Regions from separate parts of the Homo sapiens genome. Here regions 1 and 3 are each linked to region 2. Evidence: fine-mapped expression QTL. A gene starts in region 2. Each other region holds a variant in brackets. All regions are shown on one strand. Distances are between the middles of the regions.

The links. PIP is the estimated chance that this variant, and not a neighbour inherited with it, causes the effect.
Region 1: its variant is fine-mapped to the expression of F5 in whole blood (INTERVAL, PIP above 0.99).
Region 3: its variant is fine-mapped to the expression of F5 in whole blood (TOPMed, PIP above 0.99).

Annotation. Positions count from the first base shown.
Region 1 is chr1:169,562,343-169,565,113 of GRCh38, forward strand. The region is part of intron 3 of F5 (coagulation factor V); the gene reads right to left. Among named protein-coding and RNA genes, the nearest start is that of F5, 23 kb to the right of the region's middle. The variant A/G (reference allele first, on the strand shown) is at 1,644.
Region 2 is chr1:169,584,849-169,587,619 of GRCh38, forward strand. F5 (coagulation factor V) reads right to left here and starts at 1,633. Exons shown (of 25, transcript NM_000130.5): 1 at 1,381-1,633. The coding sequence starts at 1,538. RefSeq lists enhancers at 1,107-1,608, 1,609-2,108.
Region 3 is chr1:169,605,589-169,608,359 of GRCh38, forward strand. It overlaps SELP (selectin P), which reads right to left. Exons shown (of 17, transcript NM_003005.4): 9 at 1,361-1,546. Among named protein-coding and RNA genes, the nearest start is that of F5, 20 kb to the left of the region's middle. The variant G/A (reference allele first, on the strand shown) is at 1,742.

The sequences.
Region 1 (2,771 bases), 23 kb before region 2:
ATTTTTTACCTATCTTTGTCTCTCTCATTAAAGTGGATTTCTTAAATTCTGCATACAGTTTAGCATTGCTTTTTTATTCAATCTTATTTGTTTCTTAATTGTAGTGTTCTTTCCATTTACTTTTAATGTAATTGATGATATGGTTGAATTTAAAACTGCCATCTTTATATTTATTTTCTATTTGTCTATCTGGTCTTTATTCCTTTTCCCCTTCCTTTCTGTTTTCTTTTGGATTGAGTATAGTTAGTGATGTTTAATCTCCATTGTTGCCTTCTTAGCTTTGTTTTCTTAGTGGTGCCCTTCCGTTTACAATATATAGTACATTTTTAACTTGTCACAAACTTCCTTCAAATAATATTATACTATTTCACTTGTAAGAACCTTGCAATAATATATTTCCATTTCTTCCCTCCCAGCCTTTGTGCTATTGTCATACATTTTATTTATATATACATAATATACCCCACAATAAATTGTTACTATTTTGCTTTAACATTTAGATAATCAATTGCCTTTTTAATAGATTAAAACGAGGAAAAAATTTCTCTATATTTATCAACTTCTGGAACTTTTCATTCCTTCTTATGAATCTAAATGTCTCTCTGACATAATATTTCTTCTATCTAAAGGAGTTCCTTTAACATTTTTTTCTGCTCTGTTAGTGAGAAATTCTTTCTGCATTTGTATGTCTAAAACACTCTTTATTTTGCCTTCATTTAAAAAAGACTTTTTGACTTGGTATAGAATACTAAACAGACAGATTCCCCTATCTTCTACCCTCCCAACACTTTAAAGATGTCCCTAATTGTCTTCTGGTGTGCATAGTTTCTAACGATAAGTCTGCTATCATTTCTTGGTTTTGTTCCCCTGTATGTGGTGTGTGTTTTTATCTCTCACTGCTTCCAATATTTTCTCTTTATCACTGGTTTCCAGCAACTTGATAGTGATGTGGCTTGGTGTGGTTTTCTTCATGTTCCTTCTTCTTAGTTTTGTCAAACATCTTGAATCTGTTGGTTTGTAGTTTACATTACATTTGGGAATTTTTCAGTCATTATTTCTTCAAATACTTTTTCTGTTCCTGCTACTTCTGGGATCCAATTACACATATGTTAGATCACTTGATATGGTCCCACAGTTCACTGATGCTCTGTTCACTTTCTTCAGCCTTTTTAATCTCTGTATTTCACTTTGCAGTTTCTATTGCAATGTATTAATATTTTCTACTATTTCCTTTCACAGTGTCTAATGTGCTATTAATTTCATCCAGTGTTTGTTGTATTAGTGGTATCCTTCAGTTTATAATATATTTTTTTATCCTTTATTTTTTACCTTTCTTTTCTATGCTTTATTTTTTACTTTTCATGTCAACAATTGTATTCATCTACAGAAGTTCTGTGTATGCATATTTATATTCTCTATCTTCATCATGCTCATGCTTTTCTCTGCTTTCTGGAACATATTGAGAAGATTTATGATAGCTGTCTTACTGTCTCTGCCTGCTGCTTCTATTCTCTCTTTCACTTCTCAATCTGTTGAGTTTTTTCTTGGTTATGAGTCATCTCTTTCTGCTTCTTCTAATGCTTGTTTATTTTTATTAACATTGTGAATTTACATTGTTGTTTGTTGCATTCTTGTTAACTAGT[A/G]TTGAGTTTTATTCACAGTTAAGATACTTGAAATCAAATCTTGTTTTTTATTCTGTTGCCTCCTCAGCAGCCTGTAGTCTAATTTTATCCACCCACTGTTTCTAAATCCTTCTGACAATTCTATCCAGTGCTCATTTATTAGGAGGTCTTTCTATGTTTGATGGTAGGAACATAAACGATTACCGGCCCTGAGTAAGGTCCAGGGACTGTTCCACCTGTTCCTTTCAAGTGACATTTTTCTTACCCTCAGTACTTTCCTCACATGTATGTGCAGATCAGTATTCAACTTGACAAAACCTCTCTGTAGATTCTCTAGAGCTCTTTCTCTGTGATTATACTGTCCTCTGCAGGACTCTGCCCTAAAATCACAAATTCTAGCCATTTGAGCTTCTCCGAAGTCCAAACTCTATTTCCTCAACCCATAGAGACTCTGTCTGGGTTCTCCCTGCTTGTGCTGTTCCCTGGAAACACTCTTCAAGCAGTAAGCTTAGGTGCTCATAGGGCACATCTGGTTTGTTACTCTTCTTTTACTGTCTTGAGTTGTCTGTCATTCGATGTCTGAAAACTTCTGTTTTATATGTTTTGTCTGCCTGTCTAGTTGTTGAGAAAAAGGGTAAATCTGGTTCCTTATGTTCTGAAGCCAAAGTCTGAGATGCTAAATTTCCATATAAAATATTTTTTTACATTACAGCAATGTCAGCTTCCCTTCTTTAATTGTACCTTTCCCCATCCCAACTGTGGAAAATCTATTCCACTCAAAACGCTTTGCATGAGTTTGCATGGCATCAGCATATGTTTGGATTCTCCAGGTGGGAGTGGAAAATAAGGCACATCCATTCAATAGCAATGAAGGATTCAGGTACTACAGTAACGTGCAATGTATCTCATGAGGTTCTGAGCATGGAAACCATAAGTTGAGTAGGTATATCTAGATTTACTTCTTGCATAAAGTCCTTAACGTGGACCACAAGTCCATGTATGATTTACCTCTACTTCTCTCTTCAGTCTTATCATACGTCTTTTCTCTTGTTTACTATGGGCTCCTTGTCCCTTGGGTCCCCTGTCAGTTCCCCAGACATCCAAGTTCTGTCCTACCTCAGGGTCTTTGCAGATGCCATTCCCTCTGCC
Region 2 (2,771 bases):
TGGAAACTTACCCACAGGATGAGGGGACAGAATGACCAGTCATGGTTCCCTGTGTACTCACCATGTGAATCAGACCTTTGCCCTATCTGGTTCTGCCTCCGGTATTTTGCTTGTTATTTTCAACGCTAACTACAGACAAGAGAAAAAACTCCCAAGCATGAACCCAGCATGCTACAAGAAAGCCAACAACCAAGTCTGCATTCTACTCATGAGCAGGCAAGATTAGTGTTAGAAGGACTGTTATTTTCCTTGGGGTTTTAGCTTACGGCAGTTCCCAAAGGGTGTGGGTGTGACCTAGATTATCACTTTGAAGTACGATATTTAAAATGATTATTTTTGAGAAGGAGGGATCTCTTCTTATTATAAGACCAAGATGGTATGTAATACCCTCCAAAATAACCCAGTTACAATGAGAGTTTTAAAAAGGTTAATATTATACACTAAAAGATCTCAAAATATTACATTATTTTTTGGCAGATTACTTTGGTTTTGTAATTGTAAAAGAGGAACACATCTTTCATAATGAAGTGTGATGTAAGGAAAAAAAGTGAGTCACACTAGCAGGTTTACCATTTAAAAAATAACTAACTGGAAATATTGAATAGACTGTATGATTTAGTTAATTTCTGAGAAGTCTTATTTTTAACATTTCAATTAGAAAAAATAGTTTGCAACTCAAGGATAGTATTTTATCTGAATTAAACCTCCTCTCAGTTACATATGCCTTTAAGTAGCCAAGGTAAACCATATCCCAGGACATGATGAACAGAGAGAAAAAAAAATGAAGAGTCACATTCAATAGGATAAATAAGTCAAATATGAAGCAGAAAAAAGGTGAAAGTACAAAAACATACAAGAACTGATGATATTTTGAAAGTCATTTATAAGGCAGCAATAAAATTATATGACAAAAAGCACAAGGTGTTCATTTTTAGTTTTAGAAGATGAAGCTATGTAGACAATGGAATAAATAATATGTAACTAGGAGTCTCATAAAAATACTATACAACTAAAAATCTGGAACAGGAGTTTGCAGGAAGGGCTAATGAGGGAGCAAGTGCCTGGTGCCTTTGAATTAACCAATATATAAGCCAACACAAACATACTAACAAAACTGTATTGAAAATAAACTTGAAAAGAAGGTAGCATCTAACCAATCAAATAGGGTGCTTTCTAAACCCTCAGAATGATAAACTACATTGTTGGATGCAAAATTAGCATTTGCCCAGTTTATTTAATTCAGTATACTCTCCTATTAGTTATATTTACTTACCTGAAGTTAAAAAAAAAAAAAGCCATGACATTGCAAAGGGAATGTTCTCTAAAAGAAATAGATTTTCCTCTCTAGAGAAGCCCACCCGGACTCCACACCTGAGTTACCTTGAGTTTGTGGGCTCAGGTCGGTAGCTCCAACTGATGCCCTGAGCAGCCACGTAGAACTGCCTTAGCTGTGCCGCTTCTGTCCCTTGGCTCCCCCAGCCTACCCAGCTGGTGCCCAAGACCACCAGGACCCAGAGGCGTGGGCAGCCTGGGAACATGCTTCCTTTCCTGCTCCCGCTGGCTGCCACCACCCCAGGACCTGGGCAGCGCTTGCCGAGCTGCTAACCACACTCCGGGCTGTCCCAGCTGCAATGAGCTCTAGAGGCTGTGGGTGGCAGCGTCCTCCTCCCCTGCAGTTCTTGCAAACGGCAGCAGCAGCCTCTGGCTCTCACTCCCTCCGCTTTTTCTGGGGCTTTTCCTGGCAGGGGTTTGGTGAGATCACAGCTCCCAGTGACCAGAGGTATTAGGGAGAGCAACCAAACTAGTGACTGTTTTACTGCAGGTGAAGAAGGGGCAGAGATCAGAGGCTCTAGCAGGCGGGACAATGCCCAGGGATTCATGAGCCGGACAAAGCTGTATCCCTCCATTTCCACCTGCCAACACCACGGAAGCAGTCGTCCGTTACCACTGACCTGAGGCCTGCCTGGGTCCAAGCTCACACTTGGAGAACCTTCTGTGCAGTGCAGTGGCACCCAACCACCTTAAGCAGATGGCTCCCCTTTTAATCTGAGGAAAAGAGTATTGTGCCCTGTTACTGGGCACTGAAACACTATTTTCAAGTGGTGAAGAAGCAGGGAACAAACACATGGACAAGGCCTACTGCTCTGAATCGCCTTCCTGGCCTCTATCAAGGCACAGTTCTGCCTTGATAAGGGCCTGTCGCCAGCTAAGCTGCAGCATAGCAGCGGGCTTGAAGAGCTTGGCTGAAAAAAATCAGTTGTCCAGATTTCAGTTTCACTTACTAGCTGTGTTGTCTTGGGCAAGTTACTGTACCTCTCTGTTCAGTTTTGACATCTGTGAAATAAGGATGACAATAATAATTTTTCCTGATAGGGTATGTTGGGAGGATAAAATGCTACTGTAAACTATAGTTCCAGCACTTAACACACAGAGGCTAGGCGCAGTGGCTCACGCCTGTAATCCCAGTACTTTGGGAGGCCAAGGCGGGTGAATCACCTGAGGTCAGGAGTTCAAGACCAGCCTGGCCAACATGGTGAAACCCTTCTCTACTAAAAATATAAAAAATTAGCCGGGCGTTGTGGTGGACACCTGTAATCCCACCTACTCGAGAGATTGAGGCAAGAGAATTGCTTGAACCTGGAAGGTGGAGTTTGCAGTGAGCTGATATCATGCCATTTTACTCCAGCCTGGGCAACGAGAGCAAAACTCCATCAAAAAAAAAAAAGAAAGAAAGAAAAAGAAAGAAAGAGAAAAAGAGAGAAAGAAGGAAT
Region 3 (2,771 bases), 21 kb after region 2:
GTTGAAAGTCTATACAAAGTGAAAGGTATGGCAAATAATGTAGAACTGTCTAGTCTTTTACCCATTCAACTTTATTGTTAAAATTGTATATACATCATAAAAATATTAATTGCATAGGAGGAAAAGCGGAGAAAATATTGGAAGAATTCATACCAGAAGCCTAACAGTGTCTATTTTAGGATAGGAGTATTTAAGAGGATATTTCTTCATTTCTTTATTATATTTCTGCAGATTTTTATAAATGAAAATCTTGCGTTTAAAAAGCAGCATTGTCTATAAAAGTTAACTAAGGAATTGGATACATTGAGGGGGAAAAAGCTTGGGGAATATAAAAAATATACGTCTATCCTTCAATTCACAAACATGGATGACTAGAACCCGTTCAAGTTCATACAAGATGTTGCAATACTGACAGAGCACACTGGCTTGTTAAATATCAAGTACAAGGCCGGGAGCAGTGGCTCACACCTGTAATACCAGCACTGTGGGAGGCCGAGTCAGGCAGATCACCTGAGGTCAGGAGTTTGAGACCAGCCTAGCTAAGATGGTGAAACCTCATCTCTACCAAAAATACAAAAATTAGCTGGGTGCAGTGGTGGGCACCTGTAGTCCCAGCTACTCGGGAAGCTGAGACAGGAGAATTGCTTGAACCCGGGAGGCGGAGGTTGCAGTGGGCCGAGATTGTGCCATTACACTCCAGCCTGGGCGACAGAGTGAGACTCCGTCTCAAAAAATGTATGTATATCAAGTACAATGCAGATAGAATGTTTATACTGAATCCACACATTTCTTTCTTCTGAGAATCCCGTAACCTCCAGTATACAGATTAGTTTTTCTCTTTTTTCTATCACTCTTCACCTTATTCTAAGTCTATTTCTCCAATTTTATACAGATCTTGGAGTGTTTGCAACTGGGTACTTGTAAATTCTGCCCCTCCCATTTTACCATTATACCCTGTGGTTCCTAGAAGTGCCAGACCAGCCTTGGGACAACCACTCTGAAGCAATTTTTTTCCCACCTGGTCTTCTTTCCAGATGCCATGTTTGGCCAGGTGAGAAGAGTTTACCTGGTTTGTGGCAGGAGCCTTCAGGTCTGGGTAAAGACCCTGATAAGGAGTTAGCAAGGGCCATGCCCTACTGTCTATGGCCAGACATCCTGACACTTGTGTAATCTGCCTATCCCCCGGAGGCATTTGCATTTGGGATCCTTGGGTTATAGGACAAGAGGATGAGTGAGAGTATTTATGAATTTTCCAGTCCATTTCAAGGTGGATCTTACATAGTTGTCACCTCTAAAATCCAGCCTTTAAAAATACTGCCTACAATTTATTTCCATGATGTTAGAAAGAATACACTCTTACCTTGGCATTCTGGAGGAACAGAATTCCAGTTTCCAGTAGCCAAGCACTGTAGCACACTTGCTCCCACCAGGAGCAAGCCTTCATTGCAGGTGAAGCTGCAGACTGACTGGTACCTAAAGGCACCGAAGGGGTGGGAGCAGTTCACCCGGGCCTCATTTGGAACTGGGAGATCCTGGCACTGCAAAGCTAAGGGATGAGGAAGTAAGGAATAAAGAAACAGTAATACACATGTACTCATTGATTTTTGACCATTAACTCTTTCTAGTGTCAAGAACAGGGATTCCTGAATTGGGCTTGTTTAACATAGAAGATAAGAAAAAGTGTCATTTAATTATAACGGCACATGAAGGATTTTATTAGGAAATGCTAAACCTTTGTTGA[G/A]CATCTTGGCAACATGTGTCAATAATTTTTAAGTTATCATGCTTTTGGACCCAAGAATTTATGCTAAGTATGTAATCAAGATGCATACCAAAAAATCTATTTAGAGATTTTTGTGAAGACATTATTTGTAAGAGCGGAATATTGAAAACAAACACAAATGCCATTAATTGAGGGTGGAAATTAATGATGGTGGATCCATGAAAAGAATGTTAAAGGTCACTAAAAATAATATATTTTAACTTGTAAAGATAGGAGAGAGGTCTCAATGTATGATGTTAAATAAAAAATCAGAGTAAAAATTATAATATACACCATGATCTCAAAGATGTAAAATAAATAACCATATACGAAGAGAGCACACATATTCCATGTGTTGTCTCTTCTCATCTTTAAAATGGTAGTAATAATTGTAACTACCTCATAGAGTTAGACTGAGATCATAGAAAGTGCTCAATGAACATTAGCTGCTATATTAGTAGCAGTGGTAGTAATAGATAGTAATAATATCATTAAGGCTTTGCGTCACATGCAGACACTGAGTTCAGGAGTGGGAAACATTCAGAAGGCCTATGAAGGGGGTTAGTGAGACCACATCTCTGGATACTTAAGAGAATATCCAACTATCTTTTCTTGATTAGACATTTACCTTCCTGGAGACAACAATGGCTTGAATAATCCCTTATGATCCGTTTTAAGTGTGTCAAAGAGCTCATTGTGTCTTTTTCTCCCAGATAACATATACAATACATTCCATAACTCAGACTAAGTGTCAGCATCATGGTGTATAGCCATCTATTCTATTGCCTTCTTGTTTTTTCTTTTTTTTTTTTTTTGCTGTTCAATTTTTTATTATAGTGAGATATACGTAGCATGAAATTTAATTTACCATTTACCATGTCACCAATATCAAGTGTACAGTTCAGTGGTATTAAGCACATTCATATTATTGTGCCACCATCACCATTATTCATCTCCAAAACTCTTTTCATCATCTCAAACTGAAACTCCGTATCCATTAAACCATAACTCC